2 separate regions of the Homo sapiens genome follow, and region 2 is linked to region 1. A link means that fine-mapping ties the variant in region 1 to the expression of a gene that starts in the linked region. Tissue or cell type: whole blood. Region 1 holds a variant in brackets; the other region holds the start of a gene. All regions are shown on one strand. Distances are between the middles of the regions.

Region 1 (9,873 bases):
AAAATTTACTGTCCAAATAAGGGAGCAGTCAGTGCTAGAACAGTCAGGCTGTTCCAACTCCAAAAAGCCCTGGGAGAGAGGCAGTTCCCGGGCTTCAGATTCCACTGACAGGTTGTAACCCCTCAAAGCCACTAATGGGCACATTCTAGTGGCTAATTCCTCTGACCTTCCAGATGGCTGGGGTGGGGACACACCCCAGCTGAGACCCAAGGACACTGGTTCCTGGCAGGGAGCATGCAAAATCTCAGCAGCTCCAACCAGGCCAGATTAACAGCCCCATGCTCAAGGACACGCTGCCGGAAGCAGGACCCAGGAGGAAGACGTCCTTGGAGCCATTTCTTCTTTAACCAAATAAGAGCCAAATATAGCCAAATATGAAGAAACAATGTCATCTTCTTTGAAATTTTTCTCCACTTTATCACCTCATACCTAGTTTACTGCAATGGTCTCTGGTTATACAGAGAGCACTTTATCCAGTGCCAGCCCATAGGAGGCACTAAATAAATGTTAAACAGTATTATTGTATGACAAGCTCCCCTTTATTCTTCTACCTCCAGTCCTCTCTGCTCATAAGTGACAGACTAAGCATCCTGGAATGTCAGTATCATCATGTCATTCTTCTGGGCTCCTTAACCGCCAATCACACCAGACTCAGGTTCCCTTAATTGGTTCCAACCAATCTCACTTTCCAATTCTTCCTTCCCTCTTCAGCCAGCCCTGGCCCTACCACCCTCCCCAGACCTGCCCACACAGAGATACACAGACTTGCACATGCACACAGACACGCACGTGCGCGCACGCGCGCGCGCGCACACACACACACACACACACACACACCTACCTCTCTCCAGGCAGGACACCTTCTGCTCCAAACATGTCCACGTGTCCATTTCTGCCCCATGTTTCTGGGCTCAAATCACTGGCAGCCTGGAGTGCTCTCCTTCTTCCTCTCTGCTTATCCAACTCCTAGTATGCTCCAAGGCCCAGGCCAAGGTCCCCTGAAGCTCAGGCTGAGAAGCCATTCAATCCACAAACAATGACCAAGCACCTGCCTTGTGCAAGACACTAGCCCAGTCACTGAGGACACAGGAAGGAAAACAACACAGTCCTACAGGCTCCTGACCGGTGGGAGGGGCTTCAACATGAACTGCTCTGCTCACCTGAACCATGCAGGCAGCAGAGTCAACCACCAGACATCGCAGGCAGCTTGCTGTGCCACTTGTAGGGGTAAGGTGAGGGCAGCACATGAAACCCAGCTAGATGGGGTCTTCTTACCTTTCAAGACTTCAACCTTTCAAAGAAGCCACCACGGCCTAGTGGCTTAGAATATATTCTATTATAAGAACCTTCATTCTCTGTGACCACCTTGGGTAGCACTGCCCCATCTTGCTTTAGAATTTTATCAGCTAGGCTGGGTCCAACCTCATTCAATAATAGCCATGGTCAACTACCTCTCCTTAGTGCCAGGCAAAAGCCTCACATCCCTGCCCTAAGCCAGGGAACAGAGAGAGAATGATCTCCTTAGGGGTTCCTAGGCCTGATGCTACTTGACTACAGAGATGATGGGGGTCACATGGGAGCCAACCCTTAGGCCTCTTTAGGGAAAAAGGGTAATCTGCAATTCTGACCATAGGAGTAACTCCACCCTTCCCTCTCTTATTTAAGAAAGCTTATGAGAGAGTGAATGGGCTTGCTATTATTATAGGTATAATCTTGCATACCTTCTAAATTATAAGAATAGGTAACCCATTTAAGATTACTTTGGTCCTTTAACTCCTGTAGTAACAAATGCCACGTGATACATGCCTCACATCTAGTCCTAAGCTGCTAGTGAGTTACAGTGCCTGGAGAGAAGCAGCTGCTATGAGCTTCCAGTGTGCCACCCCCACCCAGGCACCCCACCTTGGATAGCCAAGAGGGCTACCTCGGTAAAAAAGAGATCCTAAGACAGACTTGTAAGCTCAACCCAGAGGGTAATCCTAATTCATTTCCCCCTGCCCAGGGGAGACAAATGTTGCTATATCAATGACTGGGGAAAAGGCCCACATATTTTTCATGTCTCACCCTCAGACTGGAGTGGCGTCTCACTGCTTCTAGAAGATTGGAACTATTACTGACTTGGTATTCATATGGACCAAAGGTACCTCCTGTTGGACATTCCTTAGGCCTGTCACATATGGTCCAAGAAAGCAGTAAGATGGAAAAGAGAGACCAGCTAAGAGCTACTCCAAATGCCCACACCATCAGATGATCATCCCAAGTGTCAGAGATATCTGTGAATCAAGTGCTCAAAGCTACACACATTGGGAGTGCTCTAAAATTCCTATCAATACAGTTATTCTTTTTCCCAGAACCAGAAGAGGCTCTCTTGATGTAATCTTAGATACCAGGGAATATAATGTTCAACCCAGGGAAAAAAAAGAGAGAACACCTAACCCATCCCTACTTATATTTCCAGCAGTGGAGACTCACAGTCTTCCTCATCATCCATCCTCCCTGTAATCTACCTGAACCTCAAGTCTCTGAATAAGCTTATCTCACATGTGACTTAGCTGTTGCTTTTTATAGCATGAACTATTCAGCCTCCTACTAAGACCATCTTTTCCAGAGAGGCTGAATGGGTCTCAGTCTCTACTAAGGAAGCTCACATCCTTCAGGAGCTTACCCAAAACAACAGTCACATATTTAGGCATGCTGGCTTGTACAGCTCAGGTCAGCCAGAAAGGCCACAGCAGCTGCTGACCATTATACCACATGTGAGCACTAACGGGGATCAATGAGTCAAGCCTTGAAAGGGCAGAACAGAAGGAAAGAAGTTACCATTGGCCCTTGGATCACCAGCAACTAGCTCGAAAGAGTCTGCCTAATGAGGACTGCATCCAGCCATAACGAGCACCTAGTCTTTGAAGCCTGTGGCATCCAGACAGTATCACTTCCTACTTGACTGCTTTCAGGGGGCCTTCCACACAGCCACCCCTTACACTACACCCATCTCCAAGGCTGAAGAGAAGACCTAGTGCACACTATCTTGAGAGGCTTAGCCACACATTTCAGTCCCCGTCCACATCCACCCTCCCCCTGCCCCTGACAGCTCAAATATTCAGTCTCCACATGTGTCTATGTGCCTGTGTGTCTGTGTTTTATTTATACTACCCATGTCTGTTGTTAGCAACAGAAACAAAGTACTTTAAGGCAGAAAAGGCAAGTCTGCCAATTGGCTTGCTGCTCCCCGCCTGCTTCCAGCTCAGGGAAGGGCTGGTAAATGATCCCTCCAGCTCCAATCTACCATGTGTGCCTACAGCTCCCACGTACCCGGGGGCTGGGAGGCATGGTGCCAGTTTGGCCCACATTAGTCACTGCTGCATGGGGTGCCGGCCATCACCTCTCTCTCTTCTTCCCTGGAGGGCACACCCTGAACACCTGATTCTGTCACCTGCCTAAATGCTGATTACTGTCGAAAGGCAGAGCTTCAGAAGCCAGAATTCAAGAAACCCATGGTAAAGATGAAAGGGCAGTTCCTCCCCAGACTCAAGACTCTGGAGAACTAGCCCAGGCTAAGTTCTACTTTCACGTCTTTCCATTCCCACTTCAGTTTTTCTGCTACTGATAATCTTCCAAGTTCCAATAGCAGGCTCCCTAATAACATTGACAGTAATTATTGATCACCACTTTGTTTTAGCTGAGAGAACAAAACATGAGATGTGATTCTTACATGTGGGGAGCTCACAGACGAATGTAGGGCACTGAGACACAACAGCAAACGATGCAAGTGTGGGACACAAACTAGAAAGACAGGACAATGGAGTGGTGGAGGGGACAGAGCAGCTCTGGACGGGGCTTCTGTGGGAGAGGAAATGTGAGCCAGACTGTAAAGGACAAACAGTAGCTGGACAGAATGAGACAGAAGACTGTTTGAGATGAAGAATGAGACTATGACTCAAGGTCCCAAGGCAGAGAGAGTGGCAAATATCACACCCATAG[C/T]GTTTTTCTCACATTCAACTGAGGCTCAGCCCTAGCAGGTATGGAGGAAGGAAAGTGGTGTGACTTGGTAAAAACAGAACCCTCCCCTCTGGGTTACCATGCTCTCCAGCCTCTCTGCACCTACCTCTGCCAAAAGCATGCTCGGGGTTTCCTTTTTCTTTCTTTTCTTTCTTTCTTTCTTTCTTTTTTTTTTTTTTTGAGACGAAGTTTCATTCTTGTTGCCCAGGCTGCAGTACAATGGTGGAATCTCGGCTCACCACAACCTCTTACCTCCCGGGTTCAAGTGATTTTCTTGCCTCAGCCTCCTGAGTAGCTGGGATTATAAGCATGCACCACCACACCGGCTAATATTTTGTATTTTCAGTAGAGACAGGGTTTCTCCATGTTGGTCAGGCTGGTCTCGAACTCCTGACCTCAGGTGATCCGCCCCGCCTCAGCCTCCCGAAGTGCTCGGATTACAGGCGTGAGCCACCACGCCCGGCCAAGGTTTCCATTTTCTGTGCTACTCCAAAATCCTCTCCCTTGCATGTCATGGAATGCAGCCAGCCTAACTTCCTAAACTCAAAAACATCCCATTGAAATTCCTGGTACTCAAGGCTCCTGCTCCCACGGTAGGACAAGCTTCAGGCTCCCCCAGGTGCAGTGTGGGCCAGGAGCTTGAACTATTCCTGTGTTGGCCTGGGTCAAGCTGTGAGTCTGATTCTTTTCTCGCTAGAGCAGGAGAAGGGGGGCAGTATGAAATTGTAACTATGGTTCCTGGAAGCCAGGACAACCATCTTTCCTCCTTCCATTCATACTTACAGTCATGCATCCATTCAGCTAATATACACCAAACACCAACCATGCATAAGCCAATATGTTTAGTGCTGTTTGGACACCAAATGCATCAGGTATGGGTCCATCCTCAAGGAGCTTCCACTCTGTAGGGTGAATACAATAGACATATAAATCTCATAAATACCAGGAAGACTATTTTAAGTGCCATTAGAAAGATGAAATTAAGTGCCACTAGAGAGATGCCATTAGAGAGATACAATGTTGAAGCTTAGGTAGAAGGAGATTACTTCCAAATAAAGGATCAAGAACACTTTACAGAGAGGGTGACCCTTGTGCTAGGCCTGGAAGATCAAATGGCAAAAGAATACAGGGGTATTCCTACACAGATAGAACTACATGCACAAGGGCTTGGAAGCAGGAAAGCAGAAGACGTATGAAGGACAACAAAGTGTTTGTCAGTCTGATGGGAGTTTAATTGAAAGTAGACCAGGGAGAAAGAGAGTTGGAAAGACAGAGACATGTCGGCTCTTAGAGGCCTCTGAGAGCCAAATCAGGGATCTTAGTTTTTCTCTGGGGAATCACAGAAGTTTTCTGAGAAAAGAATGATGGGTCAGAGATTATGCTTCTGAAAGATGAAGCAATACTCAGAGGTCTAGGGGCTACGGCAGAAAAATCTGTTCAAGTGGTCCACGAGGGCTAATGATCACAGGAGGGACAAGGGAGAGAGAGAACTGAGGTAAGCAGCAAGTGCAGGATGAGAATTTCTACCTTTGAAGCTCAGGCTGAACAGAAAAATCAGTAGGCAGTGGCCAGGGTGGCTAAGAGGCTACACAGGCAGAGAAGAGCTGGAGAGCCAGCTCTTGGGAGGGGACAGCGAAGGAGTGGGAGGTGGAAACAGACAGGAGACCAGGGAAGGGAAGGGAATCTCCGAGTTCAGCATCCTAAAAGTGAAACTGCTCCAAGTGATAAAGCCAAAGGTACCCGAAGAGGAATAAAGACGAAGTCCTTAGAGTTGGAAGGATGGAGGGACTGTGAGGCCGGAGCATTGATGGATTCTCAGTATGAATCCTCAAATCCTAATTATGCCAAAAAGAGGACATATGAAGAAGGTTGTTAACAGTTAGCCTGAAGTCAATAGGCAGGTAAGGGCACCAAGAGTGAGCAGAGGAGGGACTAACTTCTCATGGGAAAGGTTGCCAGCCCGGGCTTGGAAGCAACGTGGGGAGTTCAGAGCGAGAGTTGGGAGGAGGTGAGGTGGCTTCATTGGAGAGGGTCACAAGGAAAGTAAGATCTTCAGGGAAAAGCCAGCTTTTGGCTATAACAAAGAGGTAGGAATGTTCTAGGAAAAGCCACCAAAGAAGGGGCAATACCACTTTTTGTCTATTACACTGGGCAAGATGATAAAACTATTCCCAGAGTCAGGCAGGGTGTGGCAAGCTGGGCACTCTCATATACTGTTGGATGTTCTGTAAACCAGTATAATTTTTCTGGAAAACAATTTAGGAATACACACACACACACACACACACACACATAACCTCACAAGGATAACCTATACAAAGTTAAAAGATAAGCCACAGACAGGAAGAAAATAATTACAGAGCACATAACTGACAAGTGATTAAAAATCAGAACATATTAAGAACTTCTAAAGGAAAAAGACGAAAACCCAACTGAAAAATAAGTAAAAGATATGAACAGAGAATTCAAAGAAAATAAAATATTGCTCAATCTCTTTGATAAATTGGGAAAATGCAAATTAAAGTGATGAGATATTATATCATACTTAGACTGGAAAATACTGAGAAGCATGGGATCTCCAAGTGTTAGCAAAAATAAGGGGAAATGAACACTTATATACATTGGTGGTAAACACATAACAACTACTATAGAGAACAATCTGGAATTACCTAGTAAAGCTAAAGAATCATACTCCCCACCACATCACTTCCATTCCTAGGTAGCTGGCGTACACAAACTCTTGCACAGTCATTACAATAGTGTCTGTAATACACAAAAATTAGACTTTAACCATTTCTCACTGCCATATAATGGTGCATTATACACCAATTAAACCAAATGATTTTACACATGAAAACTTTTTAGAAATGACTTTGAATGAAAAAAAATCAACCTGCAAAAGGTTTGCCTGCAAGAATAGTATCATGTGTATAACATTTTAAAACACAATACTATACATTATTTATGGACACATGTATGTAAAAGGATAAGATATGCACAGTAATGAGGCTTTTATCAGTATCAGGAGGAGGAAAGGACTGCAGAAAGCTTTAGTCATATTTGTCCAATTTTTTTTCCTGAGCCTCCAAGCATGAGTACATATTTGTCAAACTTAAAAAAAATTTATGTTAACAGATCTGAAGCCAATATGGTACAGTGTTACATTTATGAAATTTGGATGATGGGTACATAGATTTTTATTATATTAACCTTTCACTTTTCCATATACTTTTCCAAGTTTTAAAAGATATTGTTGGCCGGGCGCAGTGGCTCACGCCTGTAATCCCAGCACTTTGGGAGGCCAAGGCAGGCAGATCACGAGGTCAGGAGATCAAGATCATCCTGGCTAACACGGTGAAACCCCATGTCTACTAAAAATACAAAAAAATTAGGCGGGCGTGGGGGTGGGTGCCTGTAGTCCCAGCTACTCGGGAGGCTGAGGCAGGAGAATGGCATGAACCCAGGAAGCAGAGCTTGCAGTGAGCCGAGATCACGCCACTGCACTCCAGCCTGGGCAACAGTGTGAGACTCTGTCTCAAAAAAAAAAAAAAAAAAAAGATATTGTTAAATAATTTAAGTATATTACATAGCTTTCGAACCAGTAATTCCATTTTTAGAAACTTCTAGCAATAACTATCCTGAAGTTATACAAGTAGGCACAGCTATACAGATATGTAGATATTTGCCACCACTTACCTTTTTTTTTTTTTTTTTTTTCCCAAAGAGATGGGGTCTCGCTCTATTGCCCAGATTGGAGTGCAGTGGCACAATCACAGCTCAACATAGCCTCCAACTCCTGGGTTCAAGTGATCCTCCCACCTTAGCCTCTTGAAAAGCTGGGACTACAGGCATGTAGCACCACACCAGCTAATTTTTTACTTTTTTCTAGAAATAGCATCTCACTACGTTGCCCAGGCTGGTCTCAAACTCTTAGCCTCAAGCAATCCTCCTGCTTTGGCCCACATAGCTATTAATAACAGAAACAACCCAAAAGTCCATCGTCAGGTTAACTAAATAACAATTCATCCATACAATGTAATTCTATGCAGCATTAAACATTATAGAGTAGCTCTGTATGTACTGTCTGTGGAATATATCCAAGTAATATTAGTCAGAAAAGTAGGTTACAAAATATAAGTGAAAAATGATGGCACTTTGGGGGAAAAAGCAATATATGTTAACACATATGAAGAAGATCCCAAAGGACAAGATACACCACAAATTAACAATAATTATGCTATAGGGGATTATGTGACTTTTACTTTCTTCCTAATATTTTTTGTTATTGTCCAAATATTCCTCAATGAGCATGTATTTCTTTTATTAGAAAAATCAATAAAGCTAGTTAATTTCACGCAAAAAGAAAATAAGGACAATCTGGTAATAGCAGATGAGTTTTACTTGAAATAACGGAAAAGGTAAGCAGAAAAAGAGGGAGATATCATAGACAGAAGTATAACAAAAGCTCTACCGAAACGAAGAGCCAGGAGGAAGAGCAAGGCTTAGAGGTTTTCATCCAGGTTGGGCATTTTCAGCAACAAGAACAAAGAAGGCAAGAGTGAGGAGGACAGCTGGGAGAGCTGTTTGTGACTGAAGAGCAGAGAGTACAGACAGAACTACACAGTTCTCAAATTCCATACAAAATTTTAATACGTTTTTCACTTCACAGATTCTGAACCTGCCACAGGACCAGCTCCTTTGGTGAGCGAAGTGTGTGAGCGAAGGAAAGATTCTTGGGTAGAACTTCATAAAGTCTGTCATAAGATCAGCCCCAGAGGAGGAGACTTTTCAGATCCCATCCCTCATACACATTCAGAAGGCCAAGGAAACACCCTCAGGATTGAACTATGATAAAGAAGGTAACCAATAGCCTGGACAACACAGGGAGACCCCATCTCTACCGAAAAAAAAAAAAAAAAACATTAGCCAGGCATGGACAGGGAGGTGCATGCCTGTGGTCCCTGCTATTTGGGAGTCTGAGGTAGGAGGATCACTTGAGCCCAAGAGGTCGAGGCTGCAGTGAGTGGTGACTGTGCCACTGTACTCCAGCCTTGGCAATAGAACAAGACCCAGTAACAAAAAAAAAAAAAAAGGGTGTCAAAGGAGACAAAAGCAATGACATCACAGTGGCCTTAGTTTAGCCTACACAACCAGCAACTCTGTTTCTCTAGAATTGGTGAGATAATGAGAAGCTGAAGAAACAGATGGGTAGGTGCAGTGGCTCATGCCTGTAATCCCAGCACTTACGGAGGCCGAGGCGGGTGGGTCACCTGAGGTCAGGAGTTCGAGACCAGCCTGGCCAACATGGTGAAACCCTGTTTCTACTAAAAATACAAAAATTAGCTGGGCGTGGTGGCGCACGCCTGTAATCCCAGCTACTTGGGAGACTGAGGCAGGAGAATGGCTTGAACCTGGGAGGTGGAGGCTGCAGTGAGCCGAGATTGTGCCACTGCACTTCAGCCTGGGTGACAAAGTAAGACTCCTTCTCAAAAAAAAAAAAAGAAAAGAAACAGAGTGAGAAAAAAAGTGGGCTGGTAAGCCAGCGGGTAATCATAAGCCGATCTTGTGTTTAGGCAAATACGAAACATCTACAACTTGAAACTAAACAGGGAAGTAATGGCTCTGTGGCCACCTATGATGCAGCATGGAAGTTCTACTGGCACGTGTCTTCTTTCTGGATGTAGTACCCCCTCTAACACAGCCGCCACATGGTAGAGTAGTTGCTAAGAAGCCACAGGAAGGTACAACATCTAAGATGCCACGGGTGTCCATTGAAATTAAGCCATCCTTTTACTTTTACCCCTAGGCTTTTGGACTTGGACCTCATCCAAGGAGCTGGCTGCCTGCACTTTCACAGACCGTCAGCTTCATCCC
Region 2 (9,873 bases), 31 kb after region 1:
GACACACATAGCACCTCCCCTCCAGGATGAAACAAATGCCTAGCCTCCCCAGCCCCTGCCTCCCCAGGAGAAGGCACACACTAATGCAAGTTTTCCCATAGGCTTTAAAGACAAATCTCTGCAGACTATGCCAGATGGTCTTTTTTTTTTTTCTTTTTCTTTTTTCGCTCTATGCCCTCCTGGCCCCTTCTCCACTTTCCATGGTCCCTCCAACTCAAAGAACTCAATTATCTGCCTGCAGATTTCCCCTTCCCCTCCTCGCAGCCTGCCCTAAACACACCCTCCTCCCAAGCCCATGCAGAGGCACAGAAGGAAGGCCAAGCCAGGGCTCGGAAGGGCTGCTGCCAGGCCTCCTCCAGCCTCAACTATGTGTTCCCCGGGCTTGGCTGCCTCGGCCGACTCTCTTAGGCCCAACGATGGAAATGGGGACGTTTCCAGGGCAATGACAGTTAACAGCTAAGAGGAGTGACAGGAAGGAAGATGTATTCTTCAATCCTTCAGTCCCAACTGCCCCACAGGGAGGTGCTTCAGAAGGCCCAGGCCTCAGAGCCTCCCATCTCCCTGAGGTGCCAGGTGGACCTCCCGTAATGCAGTTCTTAGAATCAGATGCGGTGGGGAGTGGGGCACAGCCTCTCTTAGGTCTAGGCTACCAGTGGGGCCATGATACTTGGATTGCCCTCCTGAATCTGTACACCCCGCCCTTCATTCCAGGGAAAGAGGCTGAACCAGCAGAACCAAGGGTGTCCTTGGCCTGTTCTCCAGTGTATTTCAAAGTTTCATCTTCCCGGGGTGACTGATATCTAATTTGAGAGAGAGAGAGCCCAAGGGGAGAAGGTACAGGAAGCGGAGTAGAAGGAGGAAAGAGGGAGTGAGAACAGGAATGTTACTTTTTAATCCTTAAGGAACATAGACAGATCCAATTTGTGACTCAGCTCTGGGAAGCCGGACTGATGGGAGTCGGGGAACAGCTGCAGCCCCAATCTAAGCTGTGGGCAGCTTCTCCTTCAGGCCTTAGAGGCTGTTGTGACATGACTCAACTAGAAGGGGAGCTGCTTGTTTTGTTTCATTTTTTTAATCTGCCTACTATGGGTCTGCTCAAGGGCTTCTTCCCAGACACCACTCCGGGATATGGCTGGCAGGTCTTCCCCATCCTACAGTAAAGCTGGGGCTGTGGGTGACGCGCTCTAGTATGCCATACGCCCTTTCGACTCAATGAGGACAGACCTGGGACTCTCCTTGCCTGGAGTCTCCCTTCCCCTGCTCTTCCATTCCTTGGCACAGTCCCATGGCATATCAAGAATCTCTGCCCTTGGAATTCCCACTTCCTTGTTTCTTTTTCTTTCCCCATAAGCTGTGGCCTTATGAGTTCCTGAAAGACCTGCCCAGCCCCCAAGAAGCCTTTCGGAGCAATAACACTTTCTCCCAGTTAGAACCCTGCCTTCTAAACCCAGAATGAAGGAGAAAGACCCCTTTGCCCACTGCAGAGTGTGCCCAGCAGGACCCAGCAGGATGAGGGAACCAGGCCTGGCCTCTTTTCCAGCTGCTAAAGTTTATGGTGCCACAACTCTACAGGCAGCTGTGGGACACAGGAAAAGCGACGGGTCTTTTGGAATACCTCTCCTCTATACTATATATAAACACATGAGTCAGGTGACCAAGGAAAGCTTCCTCCCTGCAGGATCGTCTATGAGGCTCCAGTTTTATGGCAAACATCACTCTTATGAAACGACCCAACCCAAGGAAAGCAACATTTGTTTCCTTAAACATCCTGAAGAAGTCTTTTCAGATTTTTCTCATGTTTACTTATAAATGCAGAAAGGAAGAAGGCACTTTATAAAATGAGAGAACCAGAACAGAGAGGCAAAGTGACTTTCCAGAGAGAGTTGGGTCATTCCTCAAGCTTCAATTCACAACACGGTTCGTTAGATAGGACGTGACTTGTTTCAAACTACTTTCATGGAAGTTATCCCACTGGCTCCTCCCAACAGTCCTGTGAAGTTGTTCTTATTACCTCCATCTCACAGGTAAGAATCTGAAGCTCCTATTAGTTAAGATACTTGCCCGTGGCCGCCCTATGGGAACAGAATCTAGCCGTCGACTCAAGTCTAGCAACCCAAATCCATTATTCTTTCTGCTATACCAACAGAAGGAGCAGCAGCTCCTGAAACTGGGTCTCTGCTAGCCCTCTTCACAGATGTGGGGATGGTAAAATTGAAGAGCTCCAACTACACACACAAGTAGAAAAGAAGGCTGAGGTTCTGGATTTACACTGCCAACTGAAGGGGCCACTGGCTCAGTGTTATGCCACATCCCTCCAGCAAAATGTAGGTTTCAACTAAGCAAAGGATCCCTGGAGTGTATGTAGCAAGAGGAATAACTTCAGAAGTGGACCGTCTGAGGTCCAGGGCCATGGAGTTCACCCTTGTGGACCCTCAGGCCACAACCACGATGTATACATGTACTCATTTTAGGGAGCCGGAACTGGGGACATGGCCAGTGCTTGCATTGGCAAGCTGATCCGAAGTTAATCAGAATGCCCCCTCATTGTTTGCCAGAATACAAAAGACATTCTGTTCAGAAAGTTCAAGAAGAAAAACTGAAGAACCAGGACAGCAGCTGTTCCCTCATCCCACAGAGAAACCAAAGGCATTTGCAAAGTTCCCTGAGGCCAAGAAGTGAATTTAAGACATAACATGGCTCAAGTGGAAGCACAACCCCTGATGGGTCTCCGTTGCAGGAAGTGTTTGCTGCATTCATCCTCCTCATAATATTACTGACAACCCCACTACCCTATCACCTATAAAACTGCCTTTCTGGGAGGGTCTCCTTTCCAAGGCCACACAGCTCACCATGTACCACTCCTCTAGGTCAGAACAAGTTTTACCAAAACTTAGGACAATCAGTGTAGGAGTGCACAGCGTGGACACTGCGTGCCCTGAGATTTGGTCAAAATGTAACCAAAGGAATCCACCCGGCACAACTACAGTGCCTCATGTTCCCCAGCTCTTAGCAGCTGCTGCTGAGAGCTCACTCTGGGACATCTGGATGAGAAACCTGTTTGCAGGCCCCCCAACCCCAAGCCAGCCCCCTCCTCCACCTCTTAGGAAAGTCTGTGATCGACCTTTTGATGTGGGAGGACAGCTTGATTCTTACCAAGCTGCCTGGAAGAGAGAGAGTGCAAAACCCCAGCTCAGGCATCCCTGTGACAGTCCCTCTGTCCTAATAAATGCTCTAGAGGGACTTGGAACTCACCACAGGCTCCTGGCTGAGCTTAATTAGCCTTTTTTTTTTTTTTTTTTCCATTACAGGTCAGACATAGCAGCACCAAGAGACAAAACAGACAGTGTTCACTAGGACGAACAAGCGGCTCAAAAGGCACTGGAGTTTCCCTGTAAGAACTACAAACACCACGGGAGTGATGTTAACTCAGATTTTTCCATATAAAAGATTCTTCCTGTAAAAATATCCTGTGCCTTTGTGCTAAATAAAAGTAAAATGATGCTTTTTAGAGTGAAGTCTAAACACCTCAGATTCAGCAAGAGTGAGATCAGCTAGATTTGCAAAGTCAAGAAAATTGGCTGTTTCCCTCCTCCTTAAGCTAATAGAATCCAACTGTTGGAGCATGACATCATTCCTGAGCCCCAAACCCCGAGCAGAGACTACAGACACTCGCCTGACTCCCAGAAAACAGCCGGAGAGAAGGGCCAGGAAAGGAGGCCAAATGATCCCAGCCCGGAGCTGCCCTTACCTGAAAGTCCCGCTGCTTTCCTGCCCACTCCATTCTCACACCGCAGCCGGCTAGGGAGCCCAGGGCCCCCAAATCCACTGGCTTAAGCTCCGATACCTGCTGCGAGCTTCCCACAGCTCCTTCCTCTGACCTTTCGTGGCGCTCCTCGCAGCCAAGTGAGCAGAGCACTGCTAGCCGGCCAGGCCGGTTGTCATGGAGACCCTGTCCTCGCTAGGCGGGCGCGCGCACAGCGGCGCGCTCTTGGCCTAGCGCGTGCACAAGGGCGCTCTCTTTTTCTTTCTTTCTCACTGTCTCTCTCTCTCTCTCTCTCTCTCTCTCTCTCTCAGTTCTGGGAGGCTTCCATGAAACAGCACTGTCTTTTGATCAGCTCGGTTTTTGCATGCATTCCACTCCTCCTACCTCCCTTCCAGTCCAACAGGGGCTCTGAACTGCTCCTGGGAACTTGCTTGAACAGCTCAGAGGGGAGAAGGGAGAAGACAGTGAGTGGACTTGTTTTCTTCCCCTCCAGTGTCTCATTTTTTATAACTTGGAAGAATCCCTGCCAGGGGGGAGGGAGCTAGCTGAAGCGCTTGAAGGGGACCCAGCTTCCTCTGGGTCCTGGAGCTCGGGTAGGAGGGACCCTGATGCGCTGCCTTGACTTGTTTGTGCACTTGGGATTTTTCCGGGCAGCAGTTGGGGCGGAAATGCACTCACATCCCAGGAGCTCGCCTGGACTGGCCTCTCTGCTTACCTTGCTGCCTGTCCAGGTTGTGGCGATGGCTTTAACCAGTGCAGGGACTCATGGTACTAGTGGTGGCGCCTAAGCAGTCTCTCATCTTCCTGAAATGGAGAGCAAAGACAACTCGGTCAGGACCAGGAAGAATCCTGGGCAAGTCGAGAGTCACAACCCAGACGACAAACCTGATACAAATACAGCCTTGTCTCTCTGCCCTGCTAAGGATCTGCAGCTAAGGTGCAGGCTTAGTGGGAGCTGCTGTCACAGTCGGTAATAATATTGCTCCTGTCAGAAAATGAGCACAGTCCCTGGGACACGGCAGACCCCCTAAGTTTAGTCCCATCCCCATCCCCATCCTGTCCCTTCCTCTCCCCCCTACCCAGCATACATTTCTGCTTTGTAACATTCTTTTTACATGTATCATTTTGTTTGATCCTCATAACCTTTTGAAATACACTGCACAGATATTTTTATGACCATTTTTTCAAGTTTATTTATTATTCTTCTTAAATTTCTTTTAGAGACAGGATCTTGCTCCATTGCCCAAGCTGGAATGCATTGGTGCAATCATAGCTCACTACATCATCAAACTCCTGGGCTCAAACAACCCTCCTGCCTCAGCCTCTGAAGTAGCTGGGACTACAGGCATGCACCACCACGCCTGGCTACTTTTTTAATTTTTATTTTTATAGAGACAGGGTCTCACTATGTTGCCCAGGCTGGTTTTGAACTCCTGGCTTCACGCAATCCTCCTGCCTCAGCCTCTCAAAGTGCTGGGATTACAGGCGTGAGCCAGCATACTGGCCTTATGACCATTTTATAGATGGAAAAACTGAGACTCAGAGAGATTAAACATTTGATCTGCACTTATACAGTTAGGCAGTCAAAGAACTAAGAGATCAGCCAAGTTCGCCCTAGTCCAGCACACTTTCAACTAAAGTATATTGCCACCTGATTTCAAAAACTGTCAACTTTTTGATAACTGGTTATGAGATAACGCTGGGCTCCCAAGGGAAGGTGGAGAATCCTTGTAAGTTGTGGCGAGATAGGCTGACTACCATCCTTTCAGCCTAAAGACCTTAAGACAGCATCTCTAAGATGTAAAACGTCCTGATGCACAGCTCGGAGAAAAAGCCCTACCCTACAGCTATATGTGACCTTGCACTTTTCTAAACGACTCTCAAAATCTTGGCTCGTCTGTTCAACATGACAGGTCTGAAAGTTAGGATTGGCATTATTATACTAATTTAACAGATTTTTTTTTTTTAATTCTACAACAGAAGTAAAATTACTTGCCCCAGGTCATGGAACCAGGAAATAAAATCTAGAAACAATCCCCAAGCCTTTCAAGTCTCTTGAGTACATTAAGCACAGTGGTTGCAACAGCACCAGGGGTCAGAAGACCTTGGCAGTGCCTGACTCCACCACTAACGGGCCATGTGCCATTGGGCAAGTCCCATGACTTCCCCCTTTCCACCTACAGAGCCTACTGACAGGGCTGGGACTGAGCATCGGAAGAGATGCTGTCCGTGAAAGCACTCTCAAGTCAGGAACTGAACTAAGAACTTTACTCCTCTTGACAACTCCTCACCAAAAACAAACAAAAAACACTGGGACAGTTAATACCCTCCCCAGGATGAGGACACTGAGGCTTAAGGAGGATATTTTCCAATGCTGCTCCCAAAAACAGTGCTCCCAAAAAAAAGGTCCTGATGTTATTTATTTATTTATTTATTGACACGAGGTCTTATTATGTTGCCCAGGCTGGTCTTGAACTCCTGAGCTCAAGCAATCCTCCCACCTCAGACTCCTGAGTAGCTGGGATTATAGGTGTGTACTACCACACCCAGCCTGATAGAATCTTTAATGCAACATCCTATGCAGAATCTAGTGGGTTTTTTTCATTAATTTCCAGCATATCACAACATTCTCAAAACAAGATTCTGATTGACTTGAGTTTAAAAGGTAAATATATACCAGAAGTTAAGGTAGGAAAGTGTTATAAAATCCAACAGGAAATGACAGAATGGCACAAATCCTAAATGGGGGGCACTACTGCTTTAGTGAAGCAATCAGAGCTTGAAAGGGAGTGAACCTAATCACCCACTATAAATCCCCAACCCCACCCAAGCCCCAGCTGAAGAATCCCAAGTCTACAAAGAAAGACAAAGAAAGACAAGACAGAAGGGCAAATGCAGTATCATCAAATCACTAAATTTCCGCCTCTTCCTTGTCCAAAAGGCATCCCTCTGCTCTCCTCCTGATCCTCAAAATGCACATTCCACTTGCCCAGTCTCCATCCTGAGAAAGAAGGGGTGATCCCACCCCTTTCTATAATAAGATAATATTAATAATACAGTAGTAACATCAGTTAACACTTGTTGAGCACCTACCATATGCCAGGCATTCTTTTAAGCAGTATGAGGGGCCAGGGGTCAGGACTGAGTACTAGAACTGATACAAGTCAGTTCCTGAAGTAATCCAAACTTAAGAAGCCCTCCAAACCAGACCCAGAATGCGGGCCATGCTCCCCCTAGTGGCATGCTGGAGTTATGGAGGTTCCTTAGGGCCTTGTCCTGGGGGAAGGGACAAAGGAAGGGCCCCATTACTGAGAGAACTGGAATCCCTGCTTGGGTAATGCTACTGTGTACACACTCCTTGAACTGGGCAGAGTCAGGGACAGCTGAATCCCACCACTGCCTCTGCAAGGCTGGATTTAGACCAATCCTACCTGACCCTTCTGAAGGATAAGGATTTGACAACCTTATATAAGCTCTCTGCTGTCTACTGAGAGGCCTGCAAGCATACATGTGCCAGAAACCTGGGAGACATCCTCAACTCTCCCTTCTTATTTCTGCCCACATCCAACCCATTTCCCAACTGCAAACAATTCTACTTCCAAAATATATCTTTTATCTGTCCACTTTTCTCCACCTCTGATGCTACCCATCTCTCACCTTAATTATTGCAAAAACCTCCTAATTGCCCCAGCTTCCACTCTCCCCTCACAAAGTCATTAGAGCTGTCTGAATCACCTTTTTTTTTTTTTTTTTTAACACCAGATCAGGTCATTTCCTGCTTAACACACTTCATTGACTTCCCACTACACTTAAGATAAAATCTAACTTCTTACCAGGACCTACAAGGCCCAGCATGATTCTCCTCCTGCCTTCTTTCAGCACACTTCCTGCCCTTCCCTGTCTGTGCATCAGCCACATACAACTGCTTTTAGTTCCCCTGAGGTGTCATATTTTTTCCAGGTTGTTTCCCGTTGCTGGGACACTCCCCTACCAAGCAGTCTTTGCCTGGATAGCTCTTACTCACCTTGCCTCACCTTGACTCTCCTGTCTCTTGACTTTCACAATCCTCCAATCTAAATGAGGCTCCCCACACTTATCCTTCAGAGCACTCACCATGCTGTGTAATTATGCATTTATACAGTTATCTGCTTAATCTCAGTCTTCCCTCAGAAGAGTTCCTTAGGATACGAACCTTGACTATTTTGCTAACCACCAATATTCCCTGCACTTTGTGCAGGGCCCAGCTCACAGCTGGCACTCAATAAATATCTGCTGAATGAAATGCATAAAACCCCATTTCTTCCTGTCCGACAGGAAGAAGAAACTTAGAGCAGCTATTTCATGTCACTCATTGCCTCTTTTCATCGACTTACAAACTATAATTACATTTCTTTTCCTCATGTGCCTTGCCTGTGGGCACAACCAAAAATTCCTGTAAAGCCTCCCTGTGGTTTGTTTCCCAGAACTTTCCTGGTAAGGTCACTCTCCTGGGGCTGCCCTCCAGGGTTTTACAGCTGCTCCCATTACCAGTGCCCACTCACAGGCCTCCACCACCACCGGGTCATTGCCAGACCACTGTGTAGGAATGGCCCAGCTCCCACGATGACAAGGTTCTCTCAGGCCAGCAGCTCCAAGGACAAAACACCTCCTCTCCCCTCCATGGTGCAAGACACTGTGCTTGTAAAAAAATACATTTTTACTAAAAAAAAAAGTCTTATGTTTCATAATTTGGAGATGGTTGTAAAAAGTTCAGAAAAAAAGGGTTCTCTTACTAAAAAGAATTTTGAACACTACAGTCTGGTGGAAAAATGAAGGTCTAAGTAACACCAACAGCAGTGTGACTACATCCAACGTTCCCTCTTCTGGCCTACGCTCCCACCCAAATCTGAAATCCTCTGGCTTCATCTCTTGCCCACACCTCCCCTGCTACCAACCACCCGATTACAGGCACAACCACAGTGCACTGCCTGGTTCTTTGAACACTGCCTGCATTTTCCTCTCCCTCCCTCTATGGCTCATGCTGTTACCTTTATCTGAATGCCTCTCCTTCCCCCACTAACAAAATCTTACTGCCTTCAAGGTCCAACTCATTTATCACCTCCTCTGTAAAATATTTTTCAATCTCCTGATAGAATCTGTTTGTCTCTTCTGCAAATCAACAGCAGTTTAAAGATGCCTTTACTATAGCGTTGATATCACTTTATCACTGTTACTTGCACACCTGTCTCCCCCACAGACCTGAGCTCCTCGAGGTGTATCCACTTTAGTATTTCATTCAATGTATGCAATAAGTGTGTGTGAGATAAACGAATCATTGAAAAGACTCTCCAAACAAACAAACAGAAACAGCTATTTCCTCTCTTAAGGTGAGGGAATTTGAGTGGATGGACCTACATTGTACAAGAAAATACATATATGTAAATCGGATTTTGGATTAGGTCACTAGAGGGGTTTATAGTACTTTCTTGTCTCTTTAAAGACAACTGAAATTCTGAACCTGAAAACACAGGAACAGAGTAAATCTTTTCAAGTCATTCCTTACTTTGGGATCAAAGAAATTCAAGTAAAATGGGCTGTTCTTTCAATATTATTGGTTGGATCTTAGAATGCCTAAGAAATGGCAGTCTAATTTCAAATGCCTCTGGGAAGCCTAGTTTCTAATGCCCCCCAGACTGGGGTCCAGTGGTATTCCCACTGAAAACATCCAGTTCTACCAAATTAATGGGTGATCAGGTCAAGTGCAGTGGCTCACACCTGTAATCCCAGCACTCTGGGAGGCTGGGGTGGGAGAATTGCTTGAGCCCAGGAGTTCAAGACTAGCCTGGGCAACATAAGGAAACCCTATCTTTACAAATAATAATTTTAAAAAATTGGCTGGGCATAGTGGCACACGCTTGTGGTCTCAGTTACTTGGGAGGCTGAAATGGGAGGATCGCTTGAGCCTGGGAGGTTAAGGCTGCAGAGAGACATCATCGCATCACTGCACTACAGCCTGGGTGACAGAGCAAAACTGTGTCTCAAAAAAAAAAAAAAAAGGTGGGGGGAATCAAACATATTCCTCTCCACCAATTCTCCTACACTGGGTTCTAGCTGCCATTTATAGAAGAGCC

The links. PIP is the estimated chance that this variant, and not a neighbour inherited with it, causes the effect.
Region 2: it holds the start of DENND2B, and the variant in region 1 is fine-mapped to the expression of DENND2B in whole blood (TOPMed, PIP above 0.99).

The regions. Positions count from the first base shown.
Region 1 is chr11:8,775,351-8,785,223 of GRCh38, forward strand. All of the region lies in intron 1 of DENND2B (DENN domain containing 2B), which reads right to left. DENND2B-AS1 (DENND2B antisense RNA 1) reads left to right here. Exons shown (of 5, transcript NR_120590.1): 2 at 8,669-8,858; 3 at 9,806-9,873. Among named protein-coding and RNA genes, the nearest start is that of DENND2B-AS1, 12 kb to the left of the region's middle. The variant C/T (reference allele first, on the strand shown) is at 3,982.
Region 2 is chr11:8,806,769-8,816,641 of GRCh38, forward strand. DENND2B (DENN domain containing 2B) reads right to left here and starts at 3,906. Exons shown (of 20, transcript NM_213618.2): 1 at 3,749-3,906. DENND2B-AS1 (DENND2B antisense RNA 1) reads left to right here. Exons shown (of 5, transcript NR_120590.1): 5 at 3,309-3,508.